Linked DNA regions of Homo sapiens. The protein of the gene in region 2 interacts with the protein of the main gene of each other region in a pairwise test. Each region holds a gene or a part of one and is shown on either strand. Other genes may lie near its edges.

Evidence for each region. The genes of interacting proteins can lie anywhere in the genome.
Region 1: the proteins of LDOC1 (region 2) and HDAC4 interact in binary tests that used the Homo sapiens proteins (3 or more experiments, as listed by UniProt).
Region 3: the proteins of LDOC1 (region 2) and THAP7 interact in binary tests that used the Homo sapiens proteins (3 or more experiments, as listed by UniProt).

Annotation. Positions count from the first base shown.
Region 1 is NC_000002.12:239,047,931-239,055,202, forward strand, and holds the end of HDAC4 (histone deacetylase 4), read right to left. Parts: intron 6,904-7,272; coding exon 6,819-6,903; intron 5,672-6,818; coding exon 5,530-5,671; intron 5,207-5,529; coding exon 5,167-5,206; 3' UTR 238-5,166; downstream 1-237. UniProt on the Homo sapiens protein: Responsible for the deacetylation of lysine residues on the N-terminal part of the core histones (H2A, H2B, H3 and H4).
Region 2 is NC_000023.11:141,173,927-141,181,139, reverse strand, and holds the start of LDOC1 (protein LDOC1), read left to right. Parts: upstream 1-4,010; 5' UTR 4,011-4,118; coding exon 4,119-4,559; 3' UTR 4,560-7,213. UniProt on the Homo sapiens protein: May have an important role in the development and/or progression of some cancers.
Region 3 is NC_000022.11:20,999,029-21,006,766, reverse strand, and holds THAP7 (THAP domain-containing protein 7), read left to right. Parts: upstream 1-4,648; 5' UTR 4,649-4,855; coding exon 4,856-4,935; intron 4,936-5,355; coding exon 5,356-5,511; intron 5,512-5,979; coding exon 5,980-6,120; intron 6,121-6,334; coding exon 6,335-6,887; 3' UTR 6,888-7,663; downstream 7,664-7,738. UniProt on the Homo sapiens protein: Chromatin-associated, histone tail-binding protein that represses transcription via recruitment of HDAC3 and nuclear hormone receptor corepressors.

The sequences.
Region 1 (7,272 bases), on a different chromosome or scaffold from region 2:
TAATGTAAAGATTTAAATTACTGGACATTTAAAATGAAGACACTCCTATGGGACCTGATTATGCAGGCAGAGGGGGACGGGCCTGCCGCTGGTCTGGGTCTAGGGGCCGTCCCCATGGGGTCCAGTGATTCCCATGCAGCCATCCGGATGGGACCCAGGGCACTGGCCATTCGGCCCACAGGGTCCCAGACATGCGAGAGCCAATGAGGAAGAGAGCGCACGGGCAGAAACCAGAGCTGGGAGGGCAAGTAACGCAGTCTTTATTTACACCACAAGATAACACGTTGCGTGATGTGGTACAGAATACTGGACTCCAGTGAAGTGGAAAGAAGGTGACCGTCAGAAGAGGATATCATTGGTCGGTGAAAATCCACCCACACAAAACAAGACAAGAATGAGAAAACCAAACACAAAACCTCCAACTCCACTGAGCAAAAGAAAGAACCATCGGGCACGTCCAGACAATCCAAGAGAAACGGATTAAATTACAGAGGTGAATGGTGGCCACGGCCAGTGCGCAGCTCACGGCGGGCGCGAACAGGCATCAGGTAGGTTACAGTGTCGTTACAACTTGGTTTTCTACCACATTCCGTAAGAAGCTCTTGGGTGAGTAAGGTTCAAGCCCCCTGTATAGATAGATAGATAGATAGATAGATAGATAGATTATATATGTTTGTCATTCTCATCAATTGGAAAATAGCGCCTCCACTATGGAGCACACACGGCAAAAAAAACAAACAAAAACTGTTCGCTTTCTTTTTCTTTCAATAGCAGACTTTTAATCAATGCCAGAGACAAAGTGAGGCCGAGCTAAGAACACGCTCAGCTTCGTTACAATGAAGAAATGGTTTCCTTTCGATGCAAAGTATAATTGTAAACCACAGTGCTCGCACAGTTCACGACTGCTTAAAGTGAAATCTTAGCCATACATCACCTAAAAGTAATTAAAAAGTCAACACAGCTGTGCGGAAAAGGGGACTCTTTCGAGTCCGCCCAGTTCTCAATCAGAATAAACCGTCACAAGGCCAGTGAGGGCGGGCGGCGCTCGCCTGGCCCGTGGAAGGAGATAAAAGGAAACAAACAAAACAAAACAAAACAAAATTCCTCCAAATCAACTCGAGAGAGACAGGCAGTTCACTGTGAATTCTGAGTAGTTTCCCTAAAACACTGTTTCCACATAAATACAATAAACTCTATTATTGGTATGTCACAAGTGCTAGATAAACTTTTTTTCTTAATATGACAAATGTTTAAGTAGTCCTTTTTATTTTTCTTACAATAAAAAGTACAATTTCTTAAGAATAAGTTCAATAAGACGCAAACTTCCCCGCCCTCCTCTCCTTCAAGGTTTTGTTTTACAGAAAAATTTCCATCTTTTGTATCTGCAAATGTCATGAGAGGGGAACAGAAAGGCATTTTTCTTCTTCCCCAAAGCTGCCGAGTTTGGCGTGCAAAATCTGTATACAATATAAAGTCATGCCGGTCGTACAGTCCATGCAACCTCCAGGTGTAGGAAACTTAAAAAAATATATTCATATATATTTATATCTATATATTTATATATGTATCAATGCCCATAAAACACGTGGGCCCAAAGTCTACAAAAAGAAGAATGGAATGAGCACGTGGCTGTGACCAGTAAAGAAGGAATGTTCTGATCAAAAAGAAAAACAACAAAGTCCATTGCTAGTGCTGCAAAAATCAAACTTGCTTTTGTGTCAGACCATTACGAAATGGTCCTTCCCCTTGCAAACAGATTTTCAAAAGAAGTAAAGAAAAACTGAAACACCTTGACAAAGTGGCCCTCCAGAACCAGAGCCCTGGGACGCTGGGGAGGGGCGGCCAGTCCCAGCGGGCCACGGCCTCCGGGACAGCCGCCTGCTGGTGGGGCGTGGGCACGTGGGCACGCTGCGGCACGGCGGGAAGCCGCGAGGGCAGGGCAGACGCCAAGAGGCCCAGTGGCGTCATCAGGGTTTCCCTCAAAGGGATATAAAGTGCTCGCTTGCTGACTCCCAGCCAGTGCCCCCAAGGCCTTTGCAAAGGAAGAAAAAGGCTAAAGGTCCAAGGACCCACAGGGAGAACACATGAAGGAACCCTCCCTGACGTGGTCCCGCCTGCAGACGCCGAGGCAGATCCTCTGCCATCTGCCCTGGACGCTTGCTGTGGAGAAGAGCCGAGTGTGTCTTCAAAGAAAAGGCTACACAGTAATGCTCTCAGCACATTTGTGAAGCTGGAGTGAGCTGACAGATGAAACGTGCCTCCCCCTGCCAGGCCTTTGCAGAGGGCGTCTCCATTTGAATGAGATTAGAATTAAGTCCCCCCACTGATAACCTGGCCACTGAGCAGTCCATGTTATCCCATCATCTGCTTAAAAAAAAAAAGTGAGATGATGCATTCCTCCCCATAAGCCACGGCGGGGTAAGAGGGCAGGTGGCAGGATCCCCAGAGGGCTATGCAGAGAATGAGGCCAAGGAGGCCAGAAGAGCCTGCTAGCTGGGCCCTGCCACTGCTCTGTGCCATGAATGGGGAATGGACCAGCTCCTCTTGCCAATCTGGGCTTCAGAGCAAAGAGTGGCCACCAGGGAGGGGAAAGTCAAACAAGTCCCAAGACCGTTCTGCCTGCTCTCAAACCACTGTCTCAGAGCTGACCATCAGCAGCCCAGTGACCAAGTGAATCCAAGAATCTGCACTCATTTGGTCAAAAGTTTGAGTTAATTTCAGAAGCTACCCTGTAAACTTTACCAAACTCCGAAACTCGGCTCTGGGTCCCTCCTGAGCACGGTGTGTCTGAACTTCTGCCCCCAAGTCTGAACCCAATATACACTTTGGAATGAAACTGGTGGCTTCATGTGCTGGAAAATAAGTTACCAGTAAAACGTGACTGTCAGTTACTGTTGAAGAGAAAAAGAGTAAAGACTGGCTGTCCTGGTCAGGCAATCATACCCTCCCTGCAGGTTCACCAGGCAACAAGGGTCCCTGGGTTCCTTGCAGCCACAGGCTCCAAAATCCAGGGCTGGCCACGTGGCTGCAGTGGAAAAACCCAAGTGGGTAAAGAGCCCCACGTGTGCCCCATGCATTGCTGACATGCTCAAAAGGTCTTTGGAAAACTCAAGTTAGAATTCTATCCTGACGATGTGGTCAGAGAAGTTTAAACATGAGTTTCATTAATGCTGACTGCCCCCGGCATCTGGCAAGCCTCCCAGGGTGGCCGGGCATCCTAAGCAACCCTCCCTGCCCTTGCCACGGAGGGGAAAAACACACCACCCCTCGTAATACTACTAGTGTTGAAAGTTAAAAAGAGCCCCTGGGCTTCTTTATACAGCTCCTAGGACAGACCAGGAAAGACACAATCGTTGGTGTCACTCCGAAAAGACCTACGGTCCCTCCTCTCACTTTCTGAAAATAGAATCTGACAGCAACAATTCTGTACGCTGCAGAAAACTCATCGTACAAAAATAAAAACAAAAATAATTAAAAACCTTTGAAAGGTAAAAAAAAATGTACAAGCAAGAATTCAGAAAGGAAAAAGATTTAGACATTATTACCATTCAGAAAATTGCTAAATGGTGAGGAAAAATGTAAAATTCATAAAACAATGCTTATTCAGGATCTTTTTGTGAAAAAATTCATACAAAAATCAACAGCAAATTTATATTCTTTGCTATAAAAACTCATTAGGTACATATGTGCATGAAGGCTTGGAGACGGGAGCGGTTCTGTTAGAAAATAATTAAAATGAAAGTACAAACTTGTAGGGTAGTTGCCCAGTGGCGAATGTGTTGGCGATCTGAAATCTAGCCAATCTGGAGCTTGAGAAAACATGAATTTCAATCAATCAGGATCCCTTTCCATAAGCACCTTGAGAGCAAATTCACAAGCCATCCATTTGCAGGGACCTTCGCAATCTGCATTCATTTTATATATATATATATACTTTTTCTATAAATGCATTATAAATATTTTATCAAGATTTCATAAGAATCAAGTAAGTTTCTTAGCTTGGAATACATTGGAATATATATTATACATATATATATTTATTTATACCTAAAATTTAAGCAATACTTCATGCTACTTGCTTTTAATAAAAAGCATTCCGATCGTAACACTGCAAGTGTGCCTACCACATGCTTCACGACCAGATGGAGATGCTCAATCGTATGTGACGTGTGAGAACACTTTGGATTCGTTTAAAATTTGTTGGACTTCAAAACCTCCAACGGGATTTGCCACTTTTTTGGAACTACCTCCATTTTTCTTAAACAGCAATAAAGCAAAACAGGGACCGCCGGGCTGCAGCCCCTGGCCCCGGAGATGACGGCTGGTGCCCGTGCTTGAGGCGTCAGGCCAGCTCGCGGTGCCAGCACTGCCAGGCTCGGCTGGCCACAGGAAACTGTCCCACCGATTCCTGCTGTTTGTTTTTTCTTAAGGCATTGTTCCTCAGACTTCAGAAAACCCAGCCACAAAAATCCACCAGAGCAATAAAAAAAAAGGCACAAACTCGCATCTTCCGATGGCTTTTGAGAAACTCAAGCCAGCTCCCCCAGCTCACATTCCTGTTTCTGTCCAGTTTTGTTTTCTTTAAAGGTCCCTCTGTCCCCCACCCGGGTGCAGACCCCCCGCCGCACACCGCTATGGTTCACAGAGGCGGGCCACAGCCGTAGAAAACGTCCTCTTTAAAAAAAAATAAGCTACAAGATGAGTCGAGTGGTTTACACAGAGACTGTGGAGTTGTGGGTAATAAACTTTAAGCACCAGTTTTAATCAAGTTTGTTTTGTATTATTAGATCTTTGATATTTGTTTTCTGTGCCTCGTGTCAACTGAATTCGGCAGCTCGGCCGCCTGTTGCCACAGGCTCCTTTCTTCCACGGCGTCCCTTGCGGGACCCGCCAGAGTGTGCTTGGCTTCCGCGTGTCCGTGTGTCTGCGCGTCGCCGGCGTCTGTCCCGTGTTCCCTGTGAGGCTGCCACGCCCAGGCGTGCATGTGCGTCTCGAGACCTGTGGGCCTGGGCGGCAGAAAGGCTTCCCGTGGCTGTTGCACGCTGGGTGTCCCTGGGTGCTCCAAGAGAGCCCCACGGTGGGACGCAGGCGTGACACGGGAAAGTTTCTTGGCTGAGCTTCAAGACAGAGACAGACAGACAAGAGAACAGCAGCTTCGAGGGAGTGCTACAGGGGCGGCTCCTCTTCCATGGGCTCCTCATCTGGTCTGTGGATCCCGCAAGAGAAGGAGATGGGGGCGTGGGGCAGGTGCACCACAGAGAGGAGAGAACAGAACGTGGGTTAAAGGCTGTGTGCTGCCCCACCCGCCAGCCTAGCCCTGGCCTGGCAGCCCCGGGTCCATCTGTTCAGGATCTAATGCTCCTCATGCGTCTCTAAGGGGCTTTGGCACTGGAAGGAGGGGGCCACACTGGCCTGTCTCTAGTCTGTTGGGCAGGGCATGTGCCATAAAGGTTCTGACCCTGAATAGTGTGTCAGTGGGCACAGTGGGGCTGGGTGAGCCTGCAGGCGGGCGGCAGGGCAGGTGCTCACCTCTTTTCGGCGGGCTTCACGCCCACGGACAGCGAGGCCATGGCGGTGACCGTCTCGGCTTCTTCGTTCTCGCAAGTCTGAGCCTCGATCAGAGAACGCCCCGCTGTGGAGGTTGTGCGCTGCAGGCAGCGCCAGTACTTGCCTGGGGTGGTGGGGTGAGGAAAGTCGCTCAGTGACTACAACTTAGCAGGATGCACTGAGGCCCGGGAAGGTCCTGCGGGACCCTGAGCCTCAAACCAGATTGATCCCTTATGATTTTAAAAGCACCCGTCTTTGAAGAGACACGAAGCAGAAGACTGCATGGCTACAAACTCACAAAGACCCAAAAAATCTCTGGAAATGTTTCCCCATTGTGAGTGGCTCGAGTCCCTCCAGGAGCAGGCCCACCTAGGACTGCAGAGGGAGGCTCCTGTAGGCCTGGCTTTCCACGCTCACGGGCCCCTTTCTGCCCTGGGTGGCCAGGGCAGGGGGCTGCCAGCCTGCTGGGTTGAGCCTTCCTATCTCTGGGAGCAGGTGAGCTGGGGGATTGTCGCTGGGGCTGAGGGGTCTTCTGCCTGGGCCCTCACAGAGGCTGGGGGTGGAGGGGTACTGCGTCAGGCGCAAGGGGGTGTATGTGGAGGGCTGGGCCTGGCCCAGGGTCAGCTTCAGGGCTCTGAAGCCAGGACTCCCTCACACAGGGAAACGGGGAGCTGAGCTCTGGACTACCCCTGCTTCTGTGGACAGTCTCAACCATCTGGGTCATCTCAAAGGCAAGACAAGCTGGGCTTGCGACAATGACAGGGTGTGGGAGGCGCCTCTGAGATAGGCTGCGTGCCACGCCCTTGCACCCAGGACCTGCTGCTTGAGGGTCGGTGCCAGAACTCAGAGGGCCTACACCCTGCCTCTCTGCAGGGCCAAGGGTTCTTTGAGGTCAGGACGTGGGCTTCTCTGGTCCAGGGAAGAGGCCGGAGTCCCCAGGGTACAGGCTCACAGCCATGGCCCCCGCTGCTAGCTGGGGACCTAGAGCAAGTGACTCCACACTGAGACTGTCTGGGCCTTGATTCTCTAGACTTACAAATTGGGCTGATGGAACCATCCCAGCAGGCCGGGGGAAATCCAGTCGGGGTTAAATGTGAGTCTCTACCAGCTCAAGAAATGCAGCTGAAAGCAAGGCCTTCTGCTGCAGGCCTGGGGAAGCAGCCGGCAGTGGGATGGAGAAGAGCTGGGGGTATAGGGGGACAGGGATGGGGTGTGGTGCAGTCCCACCCCCAGGGGCGTGTCCCCTGTGAGCACCCAGCCAGGCAACTTACTGTGGATCTCCATGACTTTCTCCATGGAACGGACAGCGTTTGCATTGGGTCTTTGCTGTAAAACCTTTTCTGGGAGAGGATCAAGCTGGAAGAAAATGCATAAGAATATAAAGACTGCCAATATAATCCACACGTGCGTTAGACGGGTGTTCCGAGACTGCAACTGTTTCCTGAGCACAGAGACCCTTGTGGGGTGCATTTGCCCACAGAGTAGAAAAAAATAACTTTAAAAAGCCAAATGTGCCGTGGTATTTATAATTTTTTTGTAAAAGTGGATTTTTTTTTAGGACGCTATAAGATATTTGTGGGTTCCTACAAGTAGCAGGAAGAAAGACAGTCCCCAGGAGTGGGGCTGGCACCTGCACGTGAACTTGGTATCTGCCATCGACGCCACAGGGTTCCATGAGGGGGAGTGACGCTTACTTCATCACTTTTCTTTCCTTTGTCTTTTATT
Region 2 (7,213 bases):
TGGACTTGTGCTCTTGCCAAACGGTGGAGTCTAAGCCACCCTTAGGGCGTTCCAACCCAGAGCTGTCCTGATAAATTTTACTGGCCCGAGACAAGTACTCCCTATGAGTACTTGTCACAGGGAGTACTTGTGTCTGCCCCCAGCATATTCACGTTAAGTGGAAAGGAACACTTAAGGGCCACTCGAGAAGGGGAAAGAAAATGAGGAAGGCGACATGCAGCTGTGAGCAGGGTGAATGGAGAAGGAAGTGCTGATATGCATTGGCACTGGTGGGAGAGCCTCACAGGCACCTGGAAGCTGGTTAAAATGAGCATTAAGATTCTACATCTTCTATCAACTGATACTACATACCTCTTCCTGACTGCTTCTGTTGTGAGTCAGTGCTAAGCTGCTTGTCTCCATTCCCTTTCTCCAACCAGGGAAGCACCTCCCAAAGTCACTGCTCAGTTCTGGGCAGGACATTTCCTGTCTTCCAGGGTCTCAGAGCACACTCAGAGGGAACAATAGTGGTTGCCTCGTCTGGTTTCCTCCCTGAATCCCTCTGCTGTGGGGTTGTAGGGAGAAAATTAGGGCAGCATCTGCCTAATCATCTCTGGTTCCCCACTAGACCTGCCTGGGCCCACTGAAGTCACAAGGGTCCAGCACATATTAATTATTCAGAGCAAGGGCATGGGCGGGCTTTAGAGTTAGAGAGGTTGGCATGAAGGTATAGCACCATCAACCTATTGCTTTATTAGGTTTAGATATTTACCTCCTGGGTCTCTGGCTCTAAAATGCCCATTCCCATGTCTGGTCCTTGTGTATGAGTCATTGTGACAGCCCTGCCAATCACCTGGCCCAGTGTCTGCTACAGAAAGTGTGCTCTAGGCCGGGCGCGGTGGCTCACGCCTGTAATCCCAGCATTTTGGAAGGCCGAGGCGGGTGGATCACCTGAGGTCAGGAGTTTGAGACCAGCCTGACCAACATGGAAAAACCCTGTCTCTACTAAAAATATAAAATTAGCTGGGCGTGGTGGCGCATGCCTGTAATCCCAGCTACTCGGGAGGCTGAAGCAGGAGAATCGCTTGAACCCGGGAGGCGGAGGTTGCAGTGAGTCGAGATTGTGCCATTGCACTCCAGCCTGGGCAACACGAGCAAAACTCTGTCTAAAAAAAAGAAAAAGAAAGAAAGAAAGTGTGCTCCCAGGAGTCGAACCCTGAGTACTCTTCCTGTATTAGGGCCTGGATATGAAAGGTGAAGCTGGACACTACCTCTGTCCCAGTCAGGCCCATCCTGTACTCTGAACTGTAAATGGGCATGATGGCCAGAGACCTACTTTCCACATTTCACATCCCTCCCCTCAATCCTTACACTGAATGTTTACGGAGCAGCTAGTAAACACTGCCAGGTGCTGAAGATAAAATTAAGAGTGAGAGTGGATCCCTGCCTGCCAACTTCTCAGGTGGCGGAGCTCATAGCACAGGAGAGGCCAAAAGCTCACATTCCTCCTATCTCTTTTTTTCACTGCTTATCCTTTCACCACTGTGATCTTCCCCGTGTCCCTGCTTGGGGCTTGGCCCTGTTTCTCTGCTCTTTCCCAGCCTCCTACTTCCATGGATGATCATTCAATTCTATCCTAAAGGACCGAATCGAATTTCTTTAAAAATCTATTCAGCCAGTTTTATTACATCAGTCATTGTTTCACAATCGAGACTGATCCATGGTCAGAGATAAAATACACTGAACAATTTTTTTTCTTTTTTTTTTTTCTTTTTGAGATGGTGTTTTGCTCTTATTGCCCAGGCTGGAGCACAATGGCGTGATCTCGGCTCAGGCAACCTCTGCCTCCCAGGTTCAAGTGATTCTCCTGCCTCAGCCTCCCAAGTAGCTGGGATTACAGGCGCCCACCACCACACCTGGCTAATTTTGTATTTTTTGGAAAGACAGGGTTTCTCCATGTTGGTCAGCCTGGTCTTAACTCCTGACCTCAGGTGGTCTGCCCCCCTCAGCCTCCCAAAGTGCTGGGATTACAGGCATGAGCCACCACGCCCAACCTTACATTTAACAATTTGAAGAGTATTTTTTGACTCTTTGTGCAGCGACAACTTCTGATTTTCATCTCAGCATCTTCACTCTGGGATGATTTTACTCGCCAAACATTAATGAAGCCTCTACTCTGGGCCAGAACTTTTCTAGGCATTAGGGATAGACCAGATAGCAAAAGCAGTGTTTGACTTATATATTCTAAAATGGAAGCAGATGATGAGCAAAGTACTGTATATACATACGACATGGTGGCCGGTAGCACAATAAATGTTATGTAGATAAATGAAGCAGAGTAAAGGGTTACAGATTGGGGGCAGAGAACAGGGTGCTCTGATAGGTCCGGTGGTCAGAAAAGTTCTCTCTGAAAGCAGTAGGAGGAGTCAGGCAGCCAACTGGGATGACAGCCTTGCAAGGCAGAAGGAATAGAAGATGCAAAGGCTATGAAGCCAGAACTGCTTGATGGGTGTGAGAATCAGCAAGGAGGACAGTGATTAGAGCACAGCAGAAACTGGGAAGAGGCACAGGATAGAAGGAGGGGCCTTGTAGGCCTTGGCTGCAACTTTGCTCTTTATTCTCAGGTGAAACTGTTGGAGGATTTTGAGCAGGAGAGTGAAGGGATCTTTTTTTTTTTCTTTTGAAACGGAGTCTCGCTCTGTAGCCCAGGCTGGAGTGCAGTGGCGCTATCTCGGCTCACTGCAACCTCTGCCTCCAGGGTTCAAGCAATTCCCCTGCCTCAGCCTCCCGAGTAGCTGGGATTACGGGCATGCGCCACCACGCCCAGCTAATTTTTTGTATTTTTAGTAGAGACGGGTTTCACCCTGTTAGCCAGGATGGTCTCGATCTCCTGACCTCGTGATCCGCCCGCCTCGGCCTCCCAAAGTGCTGGGATTACAGGCGTGAGCCACCGCGCCCGGCCCTAATTTTTGTTTTAAAGGATTCCCGTGGCTACTCTATGGAGAATATACTATAGGAAGAAAAGAGTGAAAGCTAAGTGATTAGTTGCAGCAGTCTGGGTGAGAAAGAAAGGCTAGGAATCAGGGTGGCAGTGGCAGAAATGACAAGACGTGATTGAATTGGCAATATATTTGAAAGCAGAGCCAACAATTCATGTTGGCTCTAGAATCAGGGATCCATTCAAAGTAGAAAAACAAAATTATTTAAAAACACAAACATCTTAACAGTTCATTTTTAAGTACAGAATAATACCCAGTGGCCAACGGCACTAATAGCAAGACAAGAAATAGAGAATCAAAGATATGTGGGATGCCTGCAATTGACTATTGGATGCTGATTTTGCAGAACTTTTTTATATCTTGTTACTTAGGTTTTGTGTGTGTGTGTGTGTGTGTGTGTGTGTGTGTGTGTATACCATATTATTTCCCTACTAAAGAAGTCACTGTTTAAATACTACCTTTTTCATGAAAGGCAGGACCCCCTGAGGGTCTTCATGATTCTAAAAGGAAGTGTGACTCCCACAGGGCAGCCAGCAGTGTCAATACTTCTCTGAGTGAGATTTAAATAAGAAAGAAAATGTGTTAATAAAACATCAAGCCAAGAGAATCTAGTGGCCACAGACCCACGAAGGAACACTGAGTTGTGCAAGCTACCTAGGTAGAAGGGTGGCTAATCCTTTCAGTTTGAACAAATTTACCTTCTCTGAGACCGGACTCAGCGCTCGCCAAGTCCTCTGCTAACGCAGGCCCCACAACTAGGAGCTAGGGGAGCCTATCCCAGCCTTTAACTGCCCGCCGAGAGACCTACCACAAGCCGGTGGTTCAGCGACCCAGCGCATCCTTTTCCTGGCCACGCCCTCTTTGTCTACACCCTTCCCATCCCGGCCACGCCCCCACGCCGCCGCGGCCCCCCCACTCCCAGCCTAGCCACGCCCCTCCCCCGTCGCGCCGGCGCACCGTCCGTCCGAATGGCCTCGTGGGCGGAGCTTGCGTAGCCTCCCGGACCCCGGCGCACACCGCCCCCCGCCCCCCGCCCCTGGCCACCAAGCGCCTCCGTGGACACGCACTTCCTGCGAGGGCTCCGTGCGCACCTTGGCCGAGCCGAACCGAGCCGAGTCCTGTCCTTCCAGGCCGTTCGCAATGGTGGATGAGTTGGTGCTGCTGCTGCACGCGCTCCTGATGCGGCACCGCGCCCTGAGCATCGAGAACAGCCAGCTCATGGAACAGCTGCGGCTGCTGGTGTGCGAGAGGGCCAGCCTGCTGCGCCAGGTACGTCCGCCGAGCTGCCCGGTGCCCTTCCCCGAAACGTTTAATGGCGAGAGCTCCCGGCTCCCCGAGTTTATCGTGCAGACGGCGTCTTACATGCTCGTGAACGAGAACCGATTCTGCAACGACGCCATGAAGGTGGCATTCCTAATCAGCCTCCTCACCGGGGAAGCCGAGGAGTGGGTGGTGCCCTACATCGAGATGGATAGCCCCATCCTAGGTGATTACCGGGCCTTCCTCGATGAGATGAAACAGTGCTTTGGCTGGGATGACGACGAAGACGACGACGACGAAGAAGAGGAGGATGATTATTAGGCCCTCGACCCTCGGGCCTCGGGGGGGAGGGCCCTGCACGCCGCCACCCCCTCCCCGCAGCCCTCACCCCGCCAGGAGCCACTGCTCTCCCCCTTGCCCTCCGGTCCCCTTACCTACCCGCGCCCGTCTGCTCTCTCTCTTCATTTCTCCGTAGTGCTTGTCTTTGTTCCAGGAATAGCGCTCCAGTTACCTGCTGCTGGGGTCGGGGCTGGAGCCTCACTCACTCGGAAGTGCTTGGAAGTGTCATCTACCCTGGCCATCCCCGGGATCCCTCCCCTGCTAATCTGAACTGTGTCCTGAACCCCAGCTATTGGCCAGGCCCCTGTTACAAACTGCGCAGACCACCCGTAGCCCTGCTGCTGCCACCTGCCCTGCTGCCAGGCTTACATCTTCCCAGAGAACTATGCTGCCACTTCACATCCACTCACCACATCCCACCTACAGACTACCACCTTTCGAGATCAGGACCAACCTGGAAAATGCCAGAGTTGGCTATGCCTTTTCAGACATTGATTTGGACAGCTCACCAACCCCTGAAGGGGCCGTTCAGCCTGGTTAGTTTTCTACCTACTCCGAGTGTCCTCCCCTGCCCCACCAGATTGCTGCAGGGGCGCGGTGTGCCTGGCAGCCAAATTGTTGACACTTCTTTTTTCCTATGCACTGGTTTTACACAGCTGTCATTTTTCTTTCAAAATTGCAGCAGTCCCACAGATGTGTGCATTTGGACAAATAGTACTTAAAAACAAAACAAACAAGCACTCAGCCCAGCTCCTCAATACTACCTGGAAAAAGCATTGGCATTATTTTCAATAAATATCAAGCACTAAAAAAAGAAATGATTGTCTTTTAATGGTTAAGTGCTATCACTGGCCTCTACCACTGTCACTCTGACTACCATTATTCCCGTGGAAATCAGGGAATACAACCAATCCTAGTATTCCCCGCTGTCATCTCCAGGCTGCTGGGGACAGCTACCTCAGGGCTTTGTCAGGGTTCTGATGCTCCCTTCACCAACGCATTTCTTAAAGCCCTGGCAAAGGGTGTGTTCTCTGGGTCCTCCAGGGTGGCGTGGTTAAGGGTTGGCTGAGCAGACGGCAAAGAGAGCAGTATTAATAATTAGACCATAACAATAGGCGTAAACCTGGACATATATATGTAATGCTCCTAATTCTCTGAGCTTTTGGATTCCTTAACACTGTGCCAGGGAAGTTCTGCCCCTTAATCCTTATTGCCTATGTGCAGCTGTTGAGTTCAGACTCCAGAGAGCCAACATAGTAGATTGTCACTTTCAAACTCCAAATAGCCAACATGTCACTTTCAGGTGCTCCAGCTAACATTAAGTCCCGGATCCTGGGCAAGTGCACCCATAAAGATATAGCCTGATCTTAACAAACATTTCGTTCTCCTTGGACAGACATCCTTAGAATTCCCACTCATAGATGTGTCCCAGATTCCTCCCTATGGAAATTAGCAAGATGCTTGGTTATCTCTTAAATCAGACCTTGTACTGCTATCTAGGGGCTATGCTGAGATCTCTGGGCCTGGAGGGTTCAGAGCAGTGAAGGGGGTGGCTGCTGAGAAGAAGCTGCATACCTGTGTGAGGCCATTGCTCCAGGTTAAGTCATTGAAATGTTTAATGCAGAGCAGCTTGGTTGGGGATTTGAGAGGACTGCCTCTTAGAAAGGTTTAGGAGGATATGAGGGGTTCAGAGTTCTCTTTTATATCTGTCCAGATGTCCTCATTGTACCATGTCTGGAGCCAACTTGACTTTATAACCTTTAATTAATTTAGATAACACATTTCCGTACTGTTTAAGGCCTTTTGAGGCAAGATATTGTATTTGTACTGGTAAACCTCAGTGTTGATTAAATGAGATATGGGTCTTCATATTAATCACCTCATAGGTGCGGATTAAATGAGATCATACCCATGAAGCATTTAGAACTTTCCCTGCTACATGGTGAGCACTCAGCAAACCATGGGCTGTTACTCCTGGGCCAGGGAACAGAAGTCTCAGAAAGCAAGTCTCTGACTCTGAGCCTGGCTTTAGTAGGAAAATGTCAGCGTGAAGAGGAGCAGAGCAGGTTCAGGGAGAATGGAAATGAGAGCATGATAAGACCCCATTTACTTTTTGGAGTCTTATATGAAGCAAGAAACAAAGCTGTTTTACGTGGTGGACAGGCAAAGTTCAGGGTAGGAGTTATATCTCACCCCTAGGATAGCTGTTTCTGGAGGGTGGGGACAGGGTTGCGTATGACTTAATAAAAGAGGCTGAGGCTTGGGTGGAAATGAGATCTGGGGCTCTTCAGGGAGCTGCCGCCTCCAAATCTGAATCAAGGAGACAGCTGGTTATTTAGAATTCATTGATCACTTCTCCCAGTCTCCTTGGAAAATATACAAAACCCCTTGGAAGAGAGAGATTATATTTGAGACATAATATGTGTGAGGCCAGATAATTACACTTTCTTCCTAACTAGAAAGGCCTTGAATTGGGGATAAATGTGGAAAAGTGAGCAAGATCTAAAAGGTAAAGGATCCAGTGAGACCAAAAGTCATTTATTCCAAACTGATTATGGCCCAGTTATGCTGAGTGGAGTTACAGAAACATCTTTGAATAAAATGTGATCTCTGCCTTCATAGCGAGTCCAGTCTGC
Region 3 (7,738 bases), on a different chromosome or scaffold from region 2:
GAGACAGTAGGGAGGCTAGTCTGTGGGGAGATAAAGTCACAGCCTCTCCTCCCCCCAGAAGATAGTCCAGCCTTAGATGGACCTTGTTGAATTAATTCTCTTTGCTCTTAAGTTCCTTTTTGTCAGTCTTAGTGTGATTTACCATACATTCTTGTTTGTTTGTTTGTTTTGAGACGGAGTTTCACTCTTGTCACTCAGGCTGGAGTGCAGTGATGTGATCTCGGCTCACTGCAGCCTCTGCCTCCCCGGTTCAAGCAATTCTCCTGACTCAGCCTCCTGAGTAGCTGGGATTACAGGCGCCCGCCACCATGCCTGGCTATTTTTTTTTTTTTTTTTTGAGACAGAGTCTTGCTCTGTCGCCCAGGCTGGAGTGCAGTGGCACAATCTCAGCTCACTGCAAGCTCCGCCTCCGGGGTTCATGCCATTCTCCTGCTTCAGCCTCCCGAGTAGCTGGGACTACAGGTGCCCGCCATCGCGCCTGGCTAACGTTTTTTTTTTTTTTTTTTTTATTTTTTAGTAGAGCCGGGGTTTCACCGTGTTAGCCAGGATGGTCTTGATCTCCTGACCTAGTGATCCGCCCGCCTCGGCCTCCCAAAGTGCTGGGATTACAGGCATGAGCCACCACGCCTGACCAATTTTTTGTATTTTTAGTAGAGATGAGGTTTCACCGTGTTGGGCAGGCTGGTCTTGAACTCCTGACCTCAGTTGATCCATCCGCCTTGGCCTCCCAAAATGCTGGGATTACAGGTGTGAGCCACCGCACCCAGCCAACCATACATTCTTTAACAACCATTTGCTTTTTTTTTGTTTGTTTGTTTGAGATGGAGTCTCGCCCTGTCACCCAGGCTGGAGTACAATGGAACACACTGCAACCTCCGCCTCCCAGGTTCAAGCAATTCTCCTGTCTCAGCCTCTCAAGCAGCTGGAATTACAGGCATGCGCCACCAAGCCTGGCTAATTTTTGTATTTTTGGTAGACACAGGGTTTCACCATGTTGGCTAAGCTGGTCTCGAGCTCCTGAACTCAAGTGATCCAACCGCCTTGGCCTCCCGAAGTGCTGGAATCACAGGCGTGAGTCACTGCACCCAGCTTCGGATATGCTATTTTCGAAGAGTCTTTTCCATGCTTAAAAACATTTGGGGGCTGGACCGAGTGGCTCATGCCTGTAATCCCAACACTTTGGGAGGCTGAGGTCGGTGGATCACCTGAGCTTAGGAGTTCGAGACCAGCCTAGGCAACATGGTGAAACCTCATCTCTACCAAAAATACAAAAAATTAGCCGGGCATGATGCCACGCACTTATAGCTACTTGGAAGGCTGAGGTGGGAGGATCACTTGAGCCTAGGAGGTGGAGGTTGCAGTGAGCCAAGATTGCACCACTGCACTCCAGGCTGGGTGACCAAGTGAGACCCTCTCTCACCAAAAAAAAAAAAAAAAGCTTGAGTCCAGGAGTTCAGGATCCATTGGGGGAACATGGTGAAACCCCATCTCTACACAAAATACAAAAAATTAGCCGGGTGTGATGGCACACACCTATAGTTCCAGTTACTTGGGAGGCTGAGGTAGGAGGATCACCTGAGACTGGGAGGCAGATGTTGCAGTGAGCCATGACTGCGCCACTGCACTCCAGCCTGGGTGACAGAACAAGACCCTTAGAAAAAAAAATACGAACATTTGGGTTTTTTATTATAAAAGTACTTATGTTGGCCAGGCACAGTGTCTCACACCTGTAATCCATTGGGTGGATGGCTTGAGCCCAGGACTTTGAGACCAGCCTGGGCAACGTGGCAAAACCTGTCTCTACAAAAAATAAAAAATTAGCTGGGCATGGTGGCACATTTCCTGTAGTGCTAGCTACTCAGGAGGCTGAGACAGGAGGACTGCTTAAGCCCGGGAGGTTGAGGCTGCAGTGAGCCAAGATGGCACCATTGTACTTCACTCTAACCTGGGCGACAGAGCAAAACCCATCTCAAAAAAAAAAAAAAAAAAAAAGCTGGGTGCGGTCAGTGGCTCACGCCTATAATCCCAGCATTCTGGGAGGCCAAGGTAGGCGGATCACCGGAGGTCAGGAGTTCAAGACCAGCCTGGCCAACATGGTGAAACCCTATCTCTACTAAAAATACAAAAATTAGTCAGGCATGGTGGCGGTTGCCTGTAATTCCAGCTACTCTGGAGGCTGAGGCAGGAGAATTGCTTGAACCCAGGAGGTGGAGGTTGCAGTGAGCCGAGATTGTGCCACTGCACTCCAGCCTGAATGACAGAGCAAGACTCCATCTCAAAAAAAAAAAAAAAAAAAAAAAAAAAAAAAAAAAAAAAAAAAAAACTTGATATGGGCCGGGCGCGGTGGCTCACACCTGTAATCCCAATACTTTGGGAGGCTGATGCAGGCGGATCACTTAAAGTGGGAAAATCGCTTGAACCCAGGAGGCAGAGGTTGCAGTGAGCCAAGATCACACCACTGCACTCAAGGCTGGGTGACAGAGTGAGACCCTGTCTCAAAAACAAAACAAAACCTGATATGTGGCAAAATACTGAAAGAATGCAGAAGACTGAAAAGCTGAAGTCCTCTTCTTCCCCAGAGCTGCTTCTGTCCTTTGAAAAACATTCTGTACATATTCAAGGCATATTAATCTCTTGTTATACAGGTGATGTTGACAGTGGCCAGCAGATATGTATGTCCCTTTCCTGTAGGTGACAGACCCAATTGCTGCACACAGGTGGTCACAGTAAACAGAAAGCTGGCAGCACTCCCACTTGGAAGGGCTGATAGGCTTGGCCTTAGAGTTGTGGGAGGACACTCCCTGATCAGGGTACGAACCCTTCTCTCTGCCCCTTCCAACTCCTGTGGAGTGTGTCTGTATCTAGTTGGTGCTAACTGCTACGTGCTTGGCAGGGCAAGGCAGGGTCACCACCTCAGCAGGCGTTTGTCCTCCTCCGGCATGATGCTACCCTAGCTGCCCAAGGTTCTAGCCTGTGTATGTTATTACATGGATTTTTTTACACATAAATACATAGACTTCAACTCACTTTTCTTTTTACAAAGTATACAATATACCTTGGATGTATTTATATCCCAAGACAGGGTTCTCATTCTTTTTCATGTGTTTTACTGTATGGGTAATATGGGTAATAATTTTTTTTTTTTTCTGAGACAGAGTCTCGCTCTGTAGCCCAGGCTGGAGTGCAGTGGCGAAATCTCAGCTCACTGAAATCTCCGTCTTCCGGGCTCCATCTTACATGCCCATAATCCCAGCTACTCAGGACGCTGAGGTAGGAGAATTGCTTGAACCTGGGAGACAAAGGTTGCAGTGAGCCGAGATTGCACCACTGCACTCCAGCCTGGGCAACAGAGCTAGACCCTGTCTCAACAACAACAACAAAGAAGGAGGAGAAGGAGGAAGAAGGAGAAGAAAAGAAAAAAAAAAGTCGTCAAAGGATATTAATTGTCGATAGATAACAGATAATGCCAAAAAATATAGAAGCAATTCTTAAAACACAGTGTTGGAACTGGTCCACAGCTCTGATTTTTAATGAGCTCCCATTTCTGAGGCCAATATAAACTTCATTCTATGCTGCCCATCTCTGACAGGTGGGCATTAACTACCAGCCCCCCACGGTGGTCCCTGTGGGAGACCTGGCCAAAGTGCAGCGGGCGGTGTGCATGCTGAGCAACACCACGGCCATCACGGAGGCCTGGGCCTGCCTGGACCATAAGTTCGGCCAAGTGCGCCTTAGTGCACTGGTACGTGGGGGAGGGCATGGCAGTGGGGGAATTCTCCGAGGCCCGCGAGGATCTGGCAGCTCTGGAGGATTATGAAGATGTGGGCATGGATTCCGTGGAAGCTGAGGCTGAAGAAGGCGAAGAATAGTGAGGGGAGGGTGCGGCAGGCAACCATCCCTCTGTATTCCCCACCATAACGCTAGGAGAGCTAATTACCTATTAAAATTTCCGTATTGCAAATTAGCCGGGCGTGGTGGCGGGCGCTTGTAGTCCCAGCTACTGTGGAGGGTGAGGCAGCCGAATGGCGTGAACCCGGGAGGCGGAGTTTGCAGTGAGCCGAGATCGCGCCACTGCACTCCAGCCTGGGCGACAGAGCGAGACTCCGGTCTCAGGAAAATAATAATAAAATAAAAAATAAAATTTCTGTATTGCGATACTGTCTTTCTCCTGTGTTGTACTTTGAGAGATTCCTCCTCCAGATAACCCTCCCTGAAGTCCACCTCCCCAGTACGAGAGTGAGTGCGGGCTCTGGTTTTTGTCGGGTTCTTTCGTGCAAGCGTCCCAGGCCCCGTTTTATTTCTTCCGTCAGAGGTCATTCCGAGGCGAGCTGCCGCCCCTGCGGCTTTCGAGGCTCCCAGGACACTGCCGCTTTCCGCTCCCGGGCCGCTCCCGAACGCTGGGGCCGCTCCATCGTGCCGGGGTGTTTACGGAGAAAAGTGAGGCCTGAGCGGACGAAAGAGAAGCCCACGTGGGCGACAATACTGGTAGTCCAGGGAGCTGGGACGACGCGGGCGCGTCAGAAACTCGCACGCTCGCGCCGCTTACTAACCCAGCTAGCTAGGACCTCGCCCCGCCCCGCCCCGGTGGCGGGGGCACCTCCGGCTCTCCAGTCTCTATGGTACCAACTTCCGGCGCGCGCTACCCCTCGCGAGACTTCGGCGGCGCAGCAATGGCCAGAGCGTGAGTGCCGCTGACAGAAGTCAAGAGAATCGGCTGGGACGGGGTTGGGGCGACAACGGGCCGGGGGGGACCCGACAGGCCAGAGCCCCTTGGGGAGGAGCGGCGGCTGGAGGCGCGAGGCTCCTCCGGATGCCCGGAGAGCCGCTTGCGACTTAACTCCCGCCTCTTTCCCAGATGCCGCGTCACTGCTCCGCCGCCGGCTGCTGCACACGGGACACGCGCGAGACGCGCAACCGCGGCATCTCCTTCCACAGGTCAGCGCGCGTGCGCCGCGGGCTCACGTGCGCATGCGCTAGTTGTTGCTCGCCTCGGGTCGCAACTGCGTAGAGGCTTCGCGCCTTTCTCAGATACTGAGGAGGCTTGAACCTGTGGGTGGGAGGTGAAGCGGAACGGTCCCGGCGGGACTGAATGCAGTCGGGAAGGGGAGGACGGGAAGTCTAGCCGGCTTGGACCCGCCCCACTCTGTTACCTGCCAGATGACGCTGAGGAAACTGCTTTTCTTCTCGAGGCCTCCGTTGCCTCGTCTGTGCCCGGGCGGTGGTGCTTACCCGGCGGGGTCGCAGGGAGGTCTCGTGGCGGCGCGTGTTGGGTCTGCGTTTCCCCTCTGGGGTGCTTGGGCAGCATGAGCCCAGGGCTGTGGACAGCCTGGTGCTCACGGGTTTGTGGCTCCACAGACTTCCCAAGAAGGACAACCCGAGGCGAGGCTTGTGGCTGGCCAACTGCCAGCGGCTGGACCCCAGCGGCCAGGGCCTGTGGGACCCGGCATCCGAGTACATCTACTTCTGCTCCAAACACTTTGAGGAGGACTGCTTTGAGCTGGTGGGAATCAGGTGGGCCTCCCTGCCGGCCGACGCTGGGGTAGGATGTGGGGCTCCCGGCGGACTGGGACAGCTGCAGGTCATGGAAGTCCCTTGAGCAGCCTGCGTCCAAGGGGGCTGTTTCCTGTTCCCAGCTCTGCACAGTGAAACCCACCCCCAGGATCACTGTGCCTGTGACACAAGGGGAAAACAGGAGCCTTTCCAGAGAGTATCTTTCAGAGCCCCAGTCTTGCCAGCAAGTCCACAAATCAAAGAATTCTTTCTGGCTGGTCAGCCCAGCTCGGCTTATGCAGGCTTTCCACACACCTGGACTGTGAGGAGTCCTGCGGGGAAGCGATTGGTGTAGCTGTAACTTGGCGTTCCCCAGACGTATTGTTTGCACGATGCCTTCCAGCATCCCACGGCGCTGCTGCTGGGGGCAGATTGGCCTGGGGAGGCAGCACTTGCTCTCCAGCTCATCTGGGTTGCTTTTCCCCGCAGTGGATATCACAGGCTAAAGGAGGGGGCAGTCCCCACCATATTTGAGTCTTTCTCCAAGTTGCGCCGGACAACCAAGACCAAAGGACACAGTTACCCACCTGGCCCCGCTGAAGTCAGCCGGCTCAGACGATGCAGGAAGCGGTATGTGATATGGGTGGGGGATGCCCCACTCCCACCCCTAGGCTGAGGGACTGGGCCCTAGGGGTGTCTGCCAGCAGTCTCGCTGGACAGGGTTCTTGCTACACAGAACCTGTGGATCGGGTTTGGGTGTTAAGGGTGGATCAGGTGGGCTGGTGGAGGGGGGTCTGGCAAGCCCTCAGCCTAGCCCATCAGTCTCTCTCTTCCCCCTTACCAGCTGCTCCGAGGGCCGAGGGCCCACAACTCCATTTTCTCCACCTCCACCTGCTGATGTCACCTGCTTTCCTGTGGAAGAGGCCTCAGCACCTGCCACTTTGCCGGCCTCCCCAGCTGGGAGGCTGGAGCCTGGCCTTAGCAGCCCCTTTTCAGACCTACTGGGCCCCTTGGGTGCCCAGGCAGATGAAGCAGGCTGCAGCGCCCAGCCTTCACCAGAGCGGCAGCCCTCCCCTCTCGAACCACGGCCAGTCTCCCCCTCAGCGTATATGCTGCGCCTGCCCCCACCCGCCGGAGCCTACATCCAGAATGAACACAGCTACCAGGTGGGCAGCGCCTTACTCTGGAAGCGGCGAGCCGAGGCAGCCCTTGATGCCCTTGACAAGGCCCAGCGCCAGCTGCAGGCCTGCAAGCGGCGGGAGCAGCGGCTGCGGTTGAGACTGACCAAGCTGCAGCAGGAGCGGGCACGGGAGAAGCGGGCACAGGCAGATGCCCGCCAGACTCTGAAGGAGCATGTGCAGGACTTTGCCATGCAGCTGAGCAGCAGCATGGCCTGAGGGGCTGCTGGACTGACCGAGGGGCTGCCCAGCAAGACTGCAGCCTCTTCCTCCCTCAGATCCCACCAGACCCACCAGGTGCCATAATAAAGCGGATTCTAGACGGAGGGCCTGCTGTCTGGCTCAGCTGGGGGCTGGAGCCCCTCTGAGTACTAAGCTTGCTGCCCCAGACAGTGGCTGCAGCTCCTAGAGGGCTCAGTCCAAGCTCTTTGCCAAGGAGAACAGGGAGCCTGGCTCTCACCCCTCAGAGCTACTGGTAGACAGGTGGCAGTCAGCCCTGCTAGCGCAGCTCCGTGCCCCACAGGGTTCTCTGAAGGGGCAGGATGGTGTGAGTAGGGGCCAGGAAGACAGCTCCAGGCGCCCTTTCCATAGGATCTGAAACAGCCCTGACTTAAACCAGCCAGCCCCTTTGAGAACACTTCTAAAACCCAGTCTAGATCCGGTTCTCAAGCAGGAGCATGACAGGCTTCTGTCCACAGGCCCCATCAGCCTGGTGGGTAAGCTGGACAACCCTCTCCCCGCCCCCTTCACTACCATCTCTATTTGAAAAACGGGGATGATGATGACAATCATCAACCTCCTGGGTCATGTCAGCAGGTAGTAAAGCCCCAACAAGCTAGTCCCTGGAAATCTAGGAAGAGGTGGCCAGAACATGGAGACAAGCACTCAGGTCCTGGCCTCAGCATCCTTTTCCTTCAACTCCCAGGAACCTGGAAGGCCTTGCTGCAGCTGCAGTTCTCAAACAGCTCCGTCTTGGGGTGACTCACTGCAAGTATGGCCTCTCCCTGCCGAGGAGCACAAATGAAATTCATTCTAGTCCCAGAAACTGCCACACAATTTCGTAAAATTTG